Regions from separate parts of the Homo sapiens genome. Here region 2 is linked to region 1. A link means that fine-mapping ties the variant in region 1 to the expression of a gene that starts in the linked region. Tissue or cell type: thyroid. Region 1 holds a variant in brackets; the other region holds the start of a gene. All regions are shown on one strand. Distances are between the middles of the regions.

Evidence for each region. PIP is the estimated chance that this variant, and not a neighbour inherited with it, causes the effect.
Region 2: it holds the start of RILP, and the variant in region 1 is fine-mapped to the expression of RILP in thyroid (GTEx, PIP above 0.99).

Annotation. Positions count from the first base shown.
Region 1 is chr17:1,677,470-1,685,559 of GRCh38, reverse strand. PRPF8 (pre-mRNA processing factor 8) reads left to right here and starts at 693. Exons shown (of 43, transcript NM_006445.4): 1 at 693-780; 2 at 978-1,088; 3 at 1,859-2,027; 4 at 3,267-3,431; 5 at 3,522-3,740; 6 at 3,870-4,082; 7 at 4,506-4,631; 8 at 4,729-4,834; 9 at 5,761-5,951; 10 at 6,150-6,269; 11 at 6,354-6,543; 12 at 6,679-6,798; 13 at 6,908-7,042; 14 at 7,866-7,995. The coding sequence starts at 989. The variant G/A (reference allele first, on the strand shown) is at 4,947.
Region 2 is chr17:1,645,804-1,653,893 of GRCh38, reverse strand. RILP (Rab interacting lysosomal protein) reads left to right here and starts at 4,028. Exons shown (of 8, transcript NM_031430.3): 1 at 4,028-4,317; 2 at 4,389-4,482; 3 at 4,588-4,694; 4 at 4,850-5,095; 5 at 5,399-5,544; 6 at 5,937-6,059; 7 at 6,905-6,988; 8 at 7,275-7,744. The coding sequence starts at 4,090. The coding sequence ends at 7,452. PRPF8 (pre-mRNA processing factor 8) reads left to right here. Exons shown (of 43, transcript NM_006445.4): 38 at 1-117; 39 at 211-352; 40 at 2,106-2,246; 41 at 2,341-2,480; 42 at 2,584-2,786; 43 at 2,938-3,265. The coding sequence ends at 3,092. RefSeq lists an enhancer at 2,281-2,791 and a silencer at 4,425-4,719.

The DNA of each region.
Region 1 (8,090 bases):
TGGCTCACTGCAACCTCCCCCTCCCGGGTCAAGCGATTCTCCTGCCTCAGCCTCCCGAGTAGCTGGGACTACAGGCGCCCGCCACCACGCCCGGCTAATGTTTGTATTTTTAGTAGAGACGGGGTTTCACCATGTTGGCCAGGCTGGCCTCGAACTTCTGGCTTTAAGTGATCCGCCTGCCTCGGCCTCCCAAAGTGCTGCGATTCCAGGCGTGAGCCACCGCGCCCGGCCAAGGTCTTAATTCTTGCCTGCCTTTCTGCTCCCCTGTGAACTCTACTGGTTGTCTTTTTTCCTGCTTTATCCCTCGTCCTCGGTAGACAGTGATGGTTAAATGAATGAATGCATGAACAAATGACTGTCCAGGAGCTAGTACTGCATTGCATGTACACATTGATGACAACAGACATCGTACAATGCGCAATCTTGGCAAATTTATTCAAACCCTTTAGACTTCGCTCTCTCACAGTGCGACGCCGGGAGCCCATCACACGCTGAGGTCTGTCAGAGGCCCCAGAAACAGCCTCGGAAATGGAGGAGGCGGGGCTTCACCCCGACCACACCCCCTTGCGTTCAAAGCCTTTCCGCCTATGGGCCCGCCTCCTCGGCGCAGTGTGCAACTCTAATTGGTCGTCTCACTAATCCATCTGAGCACCTCGGCGCCGACTGGATCAACTGCTGAACTCGGGTTGCGCACTTCCCGGCGCTGGGAACGCGGAGCGGACGCAGTCTGGCCGCCATTGCGCTGCGGGGAAAGCGGCCTCTTGTGTGAGGGCCTGTGGGGTGCGTGGCAGGCGTTTAAGGCCGGGCTGCGGGAGGCGTGGTCGGGTCGGGCCGAGTGACCGAAGGGGTTAGGCCGGGCGGGGCTGGATGCACTGTGTGGCGGGACTGCAGGCCGGGGTCCCCGGACGCCTTTCTGCTGCGCTTCTTGTGGGCCCGGGCCTGTGGTTAGTGAATTTTTCTATCCCGCCGCTCCCCAGATTCTCCGGATATGGCCGGAGTGTTTCCTTATCGAGGGCCGGGTAACCCGGTGCCTGGCCCTCTAGCCCCGCTACCGGACTACATGTCGGAGGAGAAGCTGCAGGAGAAAGGTGAGGCGAGAGTGTGGAGCGGCGCGCGGGCCGGAGGCGGGGCGGGTGTGCGCGCGCGCAGGCGGGTGGGGACCCTCCCCGTTTGGGCAGCTCCTGAGGTGTCAGCTCCCTTGTTATTTCCAGTTAATTTTTCATCAAGTCATTTTAAGCGCGTATTATTTGCAAGCGCTGATCCAGCGGGGGTACAGTAGTGACGGAGACAAAATTCCTGTCCTTACGGGGTTTAAATTACAGCGGGAGAGACAGAGAATAACAAAACCTTGAAGCTCTGTAATAAAAATGTCAGGCCGGGCGCGGTGGCTCACGGTTGTAATCCCAGCACTTTGGGAGGCCCAGGCGGGCGGATCACCTGAGGTCAGGAGTTCGAGACCAGCCTGGCCAACACAGTGAAACCTCGTCTCTACGAAAAATACAAAAATGAGTCGTGTGTGGTGGCGCGTGTCTATAATCCCAGCTACTGGGGAGGCTGAGGCAGGAGAATGGCTTGAACCCAGGAGGCGGAGGTTGCAGTGAGCCGACATCGCACCATTGCACTCCAGCCTGGGAGACAGAGTGAAACAACCTCTCAAAAAAAAAAAAAAAAGTCAGATAGTGATCAATGTGATGAAAGGAAAAACAGAGTAAAATGGTAAGGGAATTGGCAAGGGGTGCTTCTTCCTGCTGGTGCCTGCTTCTCCCTCACACTCACTGACAGGAGCTTACCCTAGGGCAAGAGGTGAAGAGGATTAGGGGGAGGGTGTGCAGGCCTTTAAACTGAGGTGCCTTTCCAGCTCGAAAATGGCAGCAATTGCAGGCCAAGCGCTATGCAGAAAAGCGGAAGTTTGGGTTTGTGGATGCCCAGAAGGAAGACATGCCCCCAGAACATGTCAGGAAGATCATTCGAGACCATGGAGACATGACCAACAGGAAGTTCCGCCATGACAAAAGGGTTTACTTGGGGTAAGGAACATCCTGAAATAATTTCATTTGGAATTTGGCCCTTTTCCCTTCTCCCTGTCCCACAGTCTTGGATTGATGCTTTGACAGCTCATCTTGGTGGATATAAGAGAAAGGAGAAAACCAGTAGGAGTCTCTGATAATTTCTACATCTTCCACTTTTGCAGTCTGTTTCCCCTCTCTTCCCGATCTGGGACTGGTGCTTTAATTTGTCCTGTTGATGATATTATAAGATGTCCCTGGCCAGGCGCGGTGGCTCATGCCTGTAATCCCAGCACTTTGGGAGGCCGAGGCGGGTGGATCATGAGGTCAGGAGATCGAGACCATCCTGGCTAACACGGTGAAACCCCGTCTCTACTAAAAATACACAAAATTAGCTGGGCGTGGTGGCAGGTGTCTGTAGTCCCAGCTACTTGGGAGGCTGAGGCAGGAGAATGGCGTGAACCTGGGAGGCGGAACTTGTAGTGAGCCGAGATCACACCACTGCACTCTGGCCTGGGCGAAAGTACGAGACTCCGTCTCAAAAAAAAAAAAAAAATGAAAAATAAGATGTCCCTATGGTTGAGCTGGTTGAAGTCCAGAGTGGGATACTGTGCATAGTGGCAGCCTGTCGCTCCTCAGGGACCTGAATTCTGTGTTTGGGGTATTTAATTTCAGAGGTTTCCCTACTCCTGTTTTTTCTGTGGCTCTAAACTGGGCTAGTACAGGTACAGATGTCTTAGCAGATTCCTGTTCTATTTGGACACAAAAATGTTTGCCATGTAATGAACTGGAAGTTTTGTTTATTTCAAAAAATACTTAGAGAACTGTGCTGGCTGCTGGGGATATAGTAGCGAGCAGAGGGTAACAATCTCCGCCTTTCTGCAGTGTGCGGTCTAGTGGCCTGACAGACATGAGACAACTGGTGATAGTGAAGTATGGTGAATACTTTATTATGATTTATGGGAAGATGCGGAGGGAATAGGATGTGAGAGAGCCGCAAAGCTGTCTCCAGAGGGATAGCCGTTGATTTAGAGGAGCTGATACCAGCATTGTGGGATTATGACGTTTAAGAAGAGTGGTGCAAGGTGAAGTTGGAGAGGGAGAGGCAGGGTTTCTGGTTAGGAAGGGCCTGTGGGCTAAGTTTGGGAGTTTGGATTGTAAGGTAGGACTGTGGAACATGAACATGTGGCTTCTCTGCATGGGACAGGTAGCAGAACACCTCGTCATTTCTGATAGCCTTCTCTTTTTCTAATGTGCCAGTGCCCTAAAGTACATGCCCCACGCAGTCCTCAAACTCCTGGAGAACATGCCTATGCCTTGGGAGCAGATTCGGGATGTGCCTGTGCTGTACCACATCACTGGAGCCATTTCCTTCGTCAATGAGATTCCCTGGGTCATTGAACCTGTCTACATCTCCCAGTGGGGGTGAGAAAGGCTGAAATATGGTGGGTGGTGGTGGTGGTGGTGGTTGGGAGGCAGTGGGTAGAAATGGTTGTGTGATGTCTTGCCTTCCAGGTCAATGTGGATTATGATGCGCCGAGAAAAAAGAGATAGGAGGCATTTCAAGAGGATGCGTTTTCCCCCTTTTGATGATGAGGAGCCGCCCTTGGACTATGCTGACAACATCCTAGATGTTGAGCCACTGGAGGCCATTCAGCTAGAGCTGGACCCTGAGGAGGACGCCCCTGTGTTGGACTGGTTCTATGACCACCAGCCGTTGAGGGACAGCAGGAAGTGAGTGATAGATGGAGATACTACACCTGGGAGGAGTTCTGGAAATGCAGAAGGAGTCCTGGGAGATCAGTAGGTGGTATGGGTTTGTCTAGCTGCTTACTTGAGGTGGGCCTTTCATTTTTTACCTAGGTATGTAAATGGCTCCACTTACCAGCGCTGGCAGTTCACACTACCTATGATGTCGACTCTCTACCGCCTGGCTAATCAGCTCCTGACAGACTTGGTGGATGACAACTACTTCTACCTGTTTGATTTGAAGGCCTTCTTTACGTCCAAGGCACTCAATATGGCCATTCCTGGAGGCCCCAAATTTGAACCTCTTGTTCGAGACATCAACCTACAGTGAGTTGGAGAGATTAGGGATTTTAGACATTTTGAGTTGAATGAAACGTAATCTTGATCCTTAAAGTCCTGATATAACTTCCAAATTAGTCTGTTTACACCAGGTGCAGTGGCTCACGCTGTAATCTCAGCACTTTGGGAAGCTGAGGCAGGAGGATTGCTTGAGCCCAGAAGTTTGAGACCAATCTGGGCAAAATGGCAAAACCCTATCTTTACCAAAAAATGTAGCTGGGCGTGGTGACACTCACAGCTTCGTGTAGTCTCAGTTACTTGGGAAGCTGAGCTGTGGGAGGATTGTTTGAGCCCAGGAGGTCACGGCTGCAGTGAACGATGATCATGCCATTGCATTCCAGCTTGGGTGATAAGAGTGAGACCCTGTCTCAAAAAAAAAAAAGTCTGCTTATTCTTGATGTTGTACCCTAGGGATGAAGACTGGAATGAATTCAATGATATTAACAAGATTATCATCCGGCAGCCTATCCGCACTGAGTACAAGATTGCTTTTCCTTACTTGTACAACAATCTTCCACACCATGTCCACCTCACCTGGTAAGAGACCTGGAACACAACATTTGGAAAGGAGAAGGCTGCTGTTTAGGTTGGGCCAGGGCGGGAAAACTTTGGCTGACTCTTCCTTTCATTTTAGGTACCATACTCCCAATGTTGTATTCATCAAAACTGAGGATCCTGACTTGCCAGCTTTCTACTTTGACCCTTTGATCAACCCAATCTCCCATAGGCACTCAGTCAAGGTGAGGAAGGGAAGGGATGCTTTCCCTCAGCTCTTCTAGGAGAAATGCGTGAGGTTGGCTGATGTTACTAAACGCTCAGGTGGAGGGAGATGTGTTTTCCGTCTTGCTAAGT[G/A]TTCCCCTTGAGCTATAAGCGAATATGAGAATTCAGCATTTGCTTTAAAACATGTCATTGGTATAATCCTGTTTTCTGTGATTATCCTTTTGGACTTTACGGTTCTTTTCTTGGGTGCTCTAGATAATCTGTCCCGGTCTGTCTCTATTGTGTTTGTTTGTTTTAGCCTTTATATTGAGATGTAGTTAACATACCATACAAGTTATCCATTTAAAGTGTGTAATTTGATGGTTTTTAGCTTATTCTCAGAGTTGTCCCAACTGTCACGACATGCAATTTGAGAATATTTTTATTACTTGAGAAAGAAACCCTTAGCAGTTACTCGCCATTTCTCCCCAACTTCCTTACGCAACCACTAATCTACTTTCTGTCTATAGATTTGGCTATTCTACACATTTCATATGATAGAATGAAATAGAATCGTACACTATGTAGTCTTCAGTGACTGGCTTCTTAAGCTTACCATAATGTTTTTGATGCTCATCTGTGTTCCGTTGTGTCCAAGCCCAGTGTTTGGAGCTTGGGTGGGAGATGATTGCAATGTTGACCTCCTGTGATGTTGGGGCTCCATTGGGAGGCTTTCTGGTGGTCAGCCAGTTGAGGTGTGAGAAGTGACGCTTGCTTTCCTGGTGGCCCTGTCTTGTTCTTTGCTGTCTTGGTTTCCTTTGTGCTGGCACTTCAGGGCTGCTTTTGTCAGACAGCCCAGTTTCCATAGCAGATACAGGCTTTGTGCTTGGCCCCAGAGAATTTCCCTCATCTTAAGTCTGTGCCTAGTTCAGCAGGAGCTAAACCCTTAGAGGGATTCCTTTTTCAGAGCCAGGAACCATTGCCGGATGATGATGAGGAATTTGAGCTCCCGGAGTTTGTGGAGCCCTTCCTGAAGGACACACCCCTCTATACAGACAATACAGCCAATGGCATTGCCCTGCTCTGGGCCCCGCGGCCCTTCAACCTACGCTCTGGTCGCACCCGTCGGGCCCTGGACATACCCCTTGTCAAGAACTGGTAAGGTTTTTCCCTGTGGCAGGGGGAATGATAGTGGATGTGTAGGAGAAAAGACTCCAACTAGGTGGGCATGTAGCCTTTTTTTTAAATTCTTTTTTTTTTTTTCCCATAAAAATGGTAGACAACCCAAGGCTTGCAGCCTTTAGCAGAGTGTCTGGAAGAAGAGATGGCCAAACTCTGGTGGGCTTATTTTTCCAGGTATCGGGAGCATTGTCCTGCCGGGCAGCCTGTGAAAGTGAGGGTCTCCTACCAGAAGCTGCTTAAGTACTATGTGCTGAATGCCCTGAAGCATCGGCCCCCTAAGGCTCAAAAGAAGAGGTAAGGTGCCCCAGGGGCCCTGCGCAGACTTCTGTTCCAGAGATATCAGTAGGCTGACTCTTACTCTCCATGTTCCCACCTCAGGTATTTGTTCCGCTCCTTCAAAGCCACCAAATTCTTTCAGTCCACAAAGCTGGACTGGGTGGAGGTTGGGCTCCAGGTTTGCCGCCAGGGCTACAACATGCTCAACCTTCTCATTCACCGCAAAAACCTCAACTACCTGCACCTGGACTACAACTTCAACCTCAAGCCTGTGAAAACGCTCACCACCAAGGTGCCTGCATTGGACCCTAGGGGCCTCCTGGGCTTCAAGGACGGACAGTTGTTTTCCTCTGGTTACTGATGAAGGCATACATCAGTTGGGTCCATTGCTCATTCACGTTCTGTCTGTTTTTTGCATCTTCTCCAGGAAAGAAAGAAATCTCGTTTTGGGAATGCTTTCCACCTGTGTCGGGAAGTTCTGCGTTTGACTAAGCTGGTGGTGGATAGTCACGTGCAGTATCGGCTGGGCAATGTGGATGCCTTCCAGGTAAGGTTAGGTATTCCCAACCCCTGCCTGGGTGAGGACGCTGGAGGAAGCCTGTGCTGACCGTGGAGCTGGTTTAAGCTCCAGGTCTGATGGGGCAATTGTATTGCAGCTGGCAGATGGATTGCAGTATATATTTGCCCATGTTGGGCAGTTGACGGGCATGTATCGATACAAATACAAGCTGATGCGACAGATTCGCATGTGCAAGGACCTGAAGCATCTCATCTATTATCGTTTCAACACGGTGAGACCTTGACTTTACTGACTTTCTTTTTTTTGAGACAGAGTCTTACTCTTGTCTCTTGGGCTGGTGTGCAATGGCACGATCTTGGCTCACTGCAACCTCCGCCTCCTGAGTTCAAGCAATTCTCCTGCCTCAGCCTCCCGAGTAGCTGGGATTACAGGTGCCCGCCACCACGCCTGGCAATTTTTTTTTTGTTTTGTTTTGAAACTGAGTCTTTCTCTGTTGCCCCAGCTGGAGTACAATGGCACGATCTTGGCTCACCACAGCCTCCGCCTCCCGGGTTGAAGTGATTCTCCTGCTTCAGCCTCCCAAGTAGCTGGGACTACAGGCGCGCACCACCATGCCTGGCTAGTTTTTGAAATTTTAGTAGAGATGGGGTTTCACTGTATTGGCCAGGCTGGTCTTGAACTCCTGACCTCAGGTGATCCACACTCCTCGGCCTCCCAAAGTACTGGGATTACCAGCGTGAGTCACCGTGCCCAGCCTCACTGGACTTAACTTTCTCAGATCTTTTTTCATGTATACATTTAGACAGGGCTCTTTCCAGGGACCTATTTGGAGAGCAGCTATGACTGTGTCCTTACTGCTCCTTTAAATTCACATGGGCGATCTTAGTTCCTGGTTTTTGCCTTAAGGTTTCTCATTTACCCTTTTGTTTTAGATGTTGAGGTCCCAGAGTTTTTTTTTCTTTTTACCCCTCTACTGCCATACCTACATTCCTCTGTATGTATATTATACATATATGCCCCACCTCTGCCCAGGTTTCTATTGTTGTTTAAATGCATTGCTAACTTGTATTCTTAACTTCTGCTTGGGATCGTAGGGCCCTGTAGGGAAGGGTCCTGGCTGTGGCTTCTGGGCTGCCGGTTGGCGAGTCTGGCTCTTTTTCATGCGTGGCATTACCCCTTTATTAGAGCGATGGCTTGGCAACCTCCTGGCCCGGCAGTTTGAAGGTGAGTGGTTTTCTCTGTGTCCAACTTCTCCTGTTATTGCTTCAAAAGTACCTGCCCCTGTTTGAGTCTGTTCCCTGCTCTTGTATGAGCACTCT
Region 2 (8,090 bases), 32 kb after region 1:
GCAGCTGACGGCAACACAGACTCGCACTGTCAACAAGCATGGCGATGAGATCATCACCTCCACCACCAGCAACTATGAGACCCAGACTTTCTCATCCAAGACTGAGTGGAGGGTCAGGTACTGTCGGGCAAGAGGGTGGGGATGGAAAGGCCGGCTGCACTACCTAAGGTGCTGGGCTGAGCGATGCTGACACTCCCTGCCTGTTTTTAGGGCCATCTCTGCTGCCAACCTGCACCTAAGGACCAATCACATCTATGTTTCATCTGACGACATCAAGGAGACTGGCTACACCTACATCCTTCCCAAGAATGTGCTTAAGAAGTTCATCTGCATATCTGACCTTCGGGCCCAAGTGAGTAAGTGGACTCAGCTAGGCCACAGTGTGTGCCCAACTCATTTTGTGCCTAAAACTCAGACCTGAGATTGTCTGGAACTTGAGATGCTGGTTTCAAGATTCATGGATGAGTAATTATACAAGGATAGCCAAAACAACGAGGTGGGTTTTGGCCCCATGAGATAGCAAAAGCTGTGGCAGCTGAGAGAAGGTAGTAATTGTAGTATTGGCCTGATAGTATTTGGAAGAGAACAGATATGGTCAGAAACAAATTCCTGACCAGGTGTGCGTGCTGGCTCATGCCTGTAATCCCAACACTCGGCTGGGCACAGTGGCTAATGCCTATAATCCCAGCACTTTGGGAGGCCTAGGTGGGTGGATCACCTGAGGTCAGGGGTTTGAGACCAGCCTGACCAATATGGTGAAACCCTGTCTCTACTAAAAATACAAAAAATTAGCCAGGCATGGTGGCATGCGCCCGTAGTTGCAGCTACTAGGGAGGTTGAGACAGGAGAATTGCTTGAACCCGGGAGGTGAGGTGGAGCTTGCAGTGAGCCAAGATTGCATCACTGCACTCCAGCCTGGGCAACAGAGCAAGACCCCGTCTAAAAAAACAAAACCAAAAAAAACGTGGCTGTAGTCCCAGCTACTCAGGAGGATGAGGTTGCTTGAACGCAAGCAGTGAGCTTTGATGACCCCACTGCACTCCAGGCTGGGCACAGTGGCTCATGACTGTAATCCCAGCACTGTGGGAGGCCGAGGTGGGCAGATCTTTTGAGCCCAGGAGTTCGAGACCAGCCTGGGCAACATGACGAAATGGAGTCTCTACAAAAAAAAAAAAAAAAAACTAGCCAGGCATGGTGGCATACACCTGTAATCTCAGCTACTCAGGAGGCTGAGGTGGGAGGATCACCTGATCCTGGAGGGTGGTGAGTGTAGTGAGCTGAGATCATGTCACTGCCTGCTAGCCTGGGTGACAGAGTGATACCCTGCTTCAAAAAAGAGAAAAGATGCATAACTTTACTAGTGTATCAGGGATATTATAGTTTATAAAACATCATTTTGGGCCAAGGTGGGTGAATCACTTGAGGTCAGGAGTTCAAGACCAGCTTGGCCAACGTGGCGAAACCCCGTCTCTCTTAAATATATGAAAATTAGCGGGGCATGGTGGCATGTGCCTGTAGTCCCAGCTACTCAGGAAGCTGAGGCAGGAGAATTGCTTGAACCCAGGAGGCGGAGGTCGCAGTGAGCTGAGATCACACCACTGCACTCCAGCCTTGCTGACAGAGTGAGACTCCATCTCAAACCCACTATTTAGTGGCTGTCAGGTTGGCAAATTTGAAAAGATTGTTAATATCCTGTGTGGGTGAGTTTATAGTAAACAGATCCTCTTTCTTTCTTGGTGATAATGTAAAACTTAAAATAGCACCAAGTGCTGGTTTTCCAGATGTTTTCAGCTTGTGAAAATACACTGAGCTGCATGTGTGCTCATTTGCTTGTGAATACTATGCTTAATAATCAGCTGGGGAGCTTGTGAGCAGTGCAGATTCCTGGACCCCACTCAGGAGATTCTGATGTGGTAAGTCCGCGATGAGGTCCATGTCTAACATTTTGAACAAGCACCCCAGCTGATTCTGATACAGGGGGTTCTGATCACGTTTTAAGAAACTCTGTCCTCGTTCTTGGGGGAAGGAAGGAAACAGAGGGCTGGCAGCTCCAACTCTGACCTGGTACTAAGAAGAGTTTTGGTTCCTGACCCCTTTGTCTCCAGATTGCAGGATACCTATATGGGGTGAGCCCACCAGATAACCCCCAGGTGAAGGAGATCCGCTGCATTGTGATGGTGCCGCAGTGGGGCACTCACCAGACCGTGCACCTGCCTGGCCAGCTGCCCCAGCATGAGTACCTCAAGGTAATGGGGAGTGATGGAGCCTGGGAGTGTGGAAAAGCTGGTGCGATTCCTGTCTGTGGATGGGATTCAGCTCTGTACTCCTCTTTACCTATAGGAGATGGAACCCTTAGGTTGGATCCACACTCAGCCCAATGAGTCCCCGCAGTTATCACCCCAGGATGTCACCACCCATGCCAAGATCATGGCTGACAACCCATCTTGGGATGGCGAGAAGACCATTATCATCACATGCAGGTGGGCCTGGGCTCCTTGGGAGGAAGTATGGTGGGGCAGGGATTGCAGGCCAGGGCCCAGAACAGTGGCCTGAGCTGTTACTCTGTCCTCGTTCCTCCCCCAGCTTCACGCCAGGCTCCTGTACACTGACGGCCTACAAGCTGACCCCCAGTGGCTACGAATGGGGCCGCCAGAACACAGACAAGGGCAACAACCCCAAGGGCTACCTGCCTTCACACTATGAGAGGGTGCAGATGCTGCTGTCGGACCGTTTCCTTGGCTTCTTCATGGTCCCTGCCCAGTCCTCGTGGAACTACAACTTCATGGGTAAGTGGGAGGAGCCTGGGGATGTGGGGATAGCAGTAGGGATAAGGTGAGGCCATCGCCCTTTGCACTTGGGGCCTGGCTGGCTTGGAGGTGGCGCAGGCTGCATGAGGCAGGAGCCCTGTTAACATTGGCTGTTTCCTTCTCCCCGAAGGTGTTCGGCATGACCCCAACATGAAATATGAGCTACAGCTGGCGAACCCCAAAGAGTTCTACCACGAGGTGCACAGGCCCTCTCACTTCCTCAACTTTGCTCTCCTGCAGGAGGGGGAGGTTTACTCTGCGGATCGGGAGGACCTGTATGCCTGACCGTTTCCCTGCCTCCTGCTTCAGCCTCCCGAGGCCGAAGCCTCAGCCCCTCCAGACAGGCCGCTGACATTCAGCAGTTTGGCCTCTTTCCCTCTGTCTGTGCTTGTGTTGTTGACCTCCTGATGGCTTGTCATCCTGAATAAAATATAATAATAAATTTTGTATAAATAGGAGTTCAGGGGCTGGTTTGTTTTTTTTTTCCCCCCCAAACTCAAATTCTGGATTTAGGTCTAACAGGAGGCTGGACTGGAGCGGTTCACAGCAAGATGCTGGGCTCGGCTGTGAAGGGGGGAGTATGAGGCCCCCTTCCTATTCAGGGCTTTGGGGTAGATAGCCCCTGGACTCAGTGGAGACCTGAGGCAGGGCTGGGCTTTCACACTCCGCTGCCTTGACCACATTTGCTGCTTTTTCCACAAAACTACTTGGAAGCTCTCGCCTCCTTTCCACAGTTTTGGGAGCAGTTGCCCTTTCCCGGGTCTAGGAACTCTGTGGCTTGTGCTGAGCGGCTGCGGTGTCCAGCCCAGCCCTTTAAGCTTTCTGTGTCAGTCCTGGTCAGGAAAACAAGCACACAGGCAGGCAGTTTGTGTACAGCCGGGCGGAGGCCAGAGACCGGCTGCCTACCTGTCACCTCTCGCCTGGAGCGGGCCACTGCCAAGTTGGCCCCATGACTCCAAACGGGCGGAGCCTGGATTGGGCCTGTGGGGAGGGCTCCACTCAAGTGACCACTTGCAGCCCTGAACCTCAGCTCTTGGACGCCTGGCTGGAAGTTGGCTGTCTTGTTTCCTGTGACCTTGGGGGTGGAAAGGACAGAGCCCAGGCGACCTAGGGCACTATCTCCCTACCCCACGCCTTCTCCCTTCCTCGTTCCTCCCTACCCTTATCGCTTCTACCCCGCCCACACCGCCCTAAACGGCTTCCTGGGGCGGAACTGTTTCGCTTTTCCCCGTCCCAGTGGAGGGTGGGGTGGGGGGGTCGCAGCCCTAAGCCTCTGGGAGACATGGAGCCCAGGAGGGCGGCGCCCGGGGTGCCTGGCTGGGGGTCTCGGGAGGCCGCGGGGTCGGCATCGGCCGCGGAGCTTGTGTACCATCTAGCCGGGGCCCTGGGCACTGAGCTGCAGGATCTGGCGCGCCGTTTCGGGCCGGAGGCGGCGGCCGGGCTGGTGCCGCTAGTGGTGCGGGCGCTGGAGCTCTTGGAACAGGCTGCCGTGGGGCCCGCCCCGGACTCGGTGAGTCATGGCCCTCCCTTCGCCACCCACGGGGCCGGCAGGGCCGAAGCCTGAGACCCGGGTCTCCCCAGCTGCAGGTGTCGGCGCAGCCGGCGGAGCAGGAGCTGCGGCGGCTGCGGGAGGAGAACGAGCGCCTCCGCAGGGAGCTGCGCGCGGGGCCACAGGGTAAGCGCAGCCCCGGCCAGGGCAGGGCGGGTGACGACCTGCTCGGGTCCTCCCCTCCCTCCCGCGGGCCGCGCGCCGCCGCCGCTAAGAACGCCCCTTCCTCAGAGGAGCGCGCGCTGCTGCGGCAGCTCAAGGAGGTCACGGACCGACAGCGGGACGAACTCCGGGCGCACAACCGCGACCTGCGGCAGCGCGGCCAGGAGACCGAGGCGGTGAGGGCGGGGCGGGGCTCTGGGGCGGGGCGGGGGCGGAGCGTGGCAGGCGCTGGGCGGGGCTCCGGGGGCGGGGGCGGAGCGAGGCAGGCGCTGGGCGGGGCTCCGGGGGGCCCTCGGTGCCCCGCCCACCCCACCCTTTGCTCCGCTCCCAGTTGCAGGAGCAGCTGCAGCGCCTCCTGCTGGTGAACGCTGAGCTGCGGCACAAGCTGGCGGCCATGCAGACCCAGCTGCGCGCCGCGCAGGACCGCGAGAGGGAGCGCCAGCAGCCTGGCGAAGCCGCGACTCCGCAGGCTAAAGAGCGAGCGCGGGGGCAGGCCGGGCGGCCCGGGCACCAGCACGGACAGGAGCCCGAATGGGCGACCGCCGGCGCAGGCGCCCCAGGGAACCCTGAGGACCCGGTGAGTGCCGTATGAGGGCAAGGACCCAGCCCAGGACGCAGCGTCCAGCCCTCGGTGGGCACTCAAGCAAGGTTTGCATGCTGCACAGCAGGTCGGCCAGGAAGCGGGGAGGTGGCAGACAGATCTGCGCCCCCGGCCGGCCTCGGCCCCCGCTCTCAGCTGGAGCACTGCTCTGTTATCTGTTAGGGCACCCTTGTCCCCCAAGTCTCCCGGCCCGTCACTTCCTCTAGCATTCCCATGATGGCCCTGGGGCGGGGGAACGCCAGCCGAGGCGACCCTCTGACTGTGCCTGTCCTTCCAAAGGCGGAGGCCGCGCAGCAGCTCGGGCGCCCCTCGGAGGCAGGGCAGTGCCGCTTCAGTCGGGAGGAGTTTGAGCAGATCCTTCAGGAGCGGAATGAACTCAAAGCCAAAGTGTTCCTGCTCAAGGAGGAACTGGCCTACTTCCAGCGGTGAGGACGCTGGGAAGCCGGGGGGCCTCCGATCACCCCACCTCATTCTCCAGTCATTGACATGTCCACAGTGACATGTGCCAGGCCTGCGCTGGGAACTGGGAGGACATGAATTGTACAGCCCTTGCCCTCCTGCAATGTCATCCAGACAGGGGAGAGGGACAGTACAAAGGGTTGCAGCTGCAGCAGCCAGGGAATCTCTCCTAGGAGGGGGCCACGGGGCCACCTAATTTAAGGTCTGAGGGTGTCAGCAAGGCAGAGCGCTTCCCGTGTTCAGGGAAGAGCTGCGTGCACAGGTACCAGGAGTGAGGACTGCGGCTGGCATCTCCACTGCTGGCATCCCCATGGCTGGCATCACCAGGGCTTTCTCCCTCCCTGCCCCTTTTCTTTAGGGAGCTGCTCACAGACCACCGGGTCCCCGGCCTTCTGCTCGAGGCCATGAAGGTGGCTGTCCGGAAGCAGCGGAAGAAGATCAAGGCCAAGATGTTAGGGACACCAGAGGAAGCAGAGAGCAGGTAGGTCCCTGCCTGCATTCCCACGGAGCCAGGCCTCCCTCCCTCATTCTGCTGAGCCTGATGACCCAGCCTGGTCACCCTCTGAGCCCATTGTCTCAGACTGAGGCTGTCACCCCAACCCGGTCACCCCTTGAGCCTCCCTAGCCTGGCCGCTTCTAGGGCCTGCTGACCTGCTCTGGCTGTGTCCCATGGCCGCTGTCCAGCCTGCGCCCTTCTCCCTGGATCTCACCACTCCCCTTGCCTTGCCTGCCATCCATTCTGCCTGACAACACTGCCTCTCCACATTCATTCTTCAAGTTCCTGTCTTGGCTGGGTCTGTTTATTCTTACGGGGGTGAAACTGTAGCCGCGGCTGTGTCAGGGCCTGCTGTGTGTCAAGCTATAAAATAAACCCTTGGCAGGGCGCGGTGGCTCACGCCTGTAATCCCAGCACTTTGAGAGGCTAAGGTGGGTAGATCACCTGAGGTCAGGAGTTCGAGACCAGCGTGGCCAACATGGTGAAACTCCGTCTCTACTAAAAATACAAAAATTAGCCGGGCATGGTGGCATGTGCCTATAATCCCAGCTACTCAGGAGGCTGCGGCAGGAGAATCGCTTGAACTTGGGAGGCGGAGGTTGCAGTGAGCTGAGATCGCACCACTGCACTCCAGCCTGGGCGACAGAGTGAGACCCTGTCTCAAAAAAAAAAAAATTAAAAATTAAAGGCTCGACATCCTGCATCTCCCCAGGGTTGCCTTCTCTCCAGCCCCGGGGGCCCTGCAGTCCCTCCATCCCCCCTGCTGGATTCCTGTTGTCCCTCAGGGCCTTGATCAATGGCCCTCACTTCTCCTCTCTCCTCTGTCTCAGTGAGGATGAGGCTGGCCCATGGATCCTGCTCTCCGATGACAAGGGAGACCATCCCCCACCCCCGGAGTCCAAAATACAGAGTTTGTATGTTGGGGAAAGGGGAAAGGCAAGAGTGTGGGGAGGGAGGAAGGGCCCTGGCTGGTCCTTCTCAGGATCCCCTTTCCCGCTTCTCTGCCCGTCACCCTGCTGTGCTTGGCTCTAAGCACACCGTCCCCTCCTGCTTCTCTGGCCCTGGCCCCCATCACCTTCACACTCCCTCAGGCTGCCCTTTCTTCCCCCTCTCCCCTTTTCTCACCATCCCCTGCCCTCACCCATATCCTTGACCTCTCTGGCTTCCTGGCTCAAAGTGCCTCTGGCTGTCTCTCTCCAGCTTTGGCCTATGGTATCGGGGTAAAGCTGAATCCTCTGAGGATGAGACCAGCAGCCCTGCACCCAGCAAGCTAGGGGGAGAAGAGGAGGCCCAACCACAGTCTCCAGCTCCTGATCCGCCCTGTTCTGCCCTCCACGAACACCTTTGTCTGGGGGCCTCAGCCGCCCCAGAGGCCTGACTTAGGGGTCTGGCTGTGGAAGGATGTGTGGCCTCAAATGAGGACAGGGCTCCCGCCTTCACAGCCCTCGCCAGGGGTCTGCCCCAATCCTGGCCTGCATCAGGGCAGGACGGGGTCTCAGCCCGCCTCCCTCTCTACGTCTCTGTACCGAGCCTCTGGGGCCAGATATAAGAGTGCCTCTCTGAGTCTCAGTTTCCCCATCCATGAAATGAGAGCTGACTGCCTAGCTCCCAGGGCTTTGTGCAGACGGCCTGAGCTCATGTAATAAAGAACTGCCCGTAATACACAGAAACTGTTCCTCGCCTGTCTGTCCATGTCTGTGCCACCTCCCAACCCTGCCAGGAGCAGAGGCAGGCTGAGGGGTCCTCGCTGGTCTCCTTGCTCAGTCACTGGGTGGGGTGGCTTCTTGCAGCTCAGGCCTTGCTTTGGGAGTGTGGCCTGATGGAAAGCCGTGGCTCCCAGCCTCAGTCCACCCCCTTCCCTGGCCCCGGCACCCAGGGACCTGCAACTTCATTCTTCTGGCCCTTCCAGGCCCAGGCCAGTCAGCCCTGCCATTGCCTTTCTTTCCCTTTCTTTTTTTGAGTGTCAGTCTTTCCAGCCACCCCCTCCCTCTCAGGGAGGTGCCTCGTGGCAGCCCG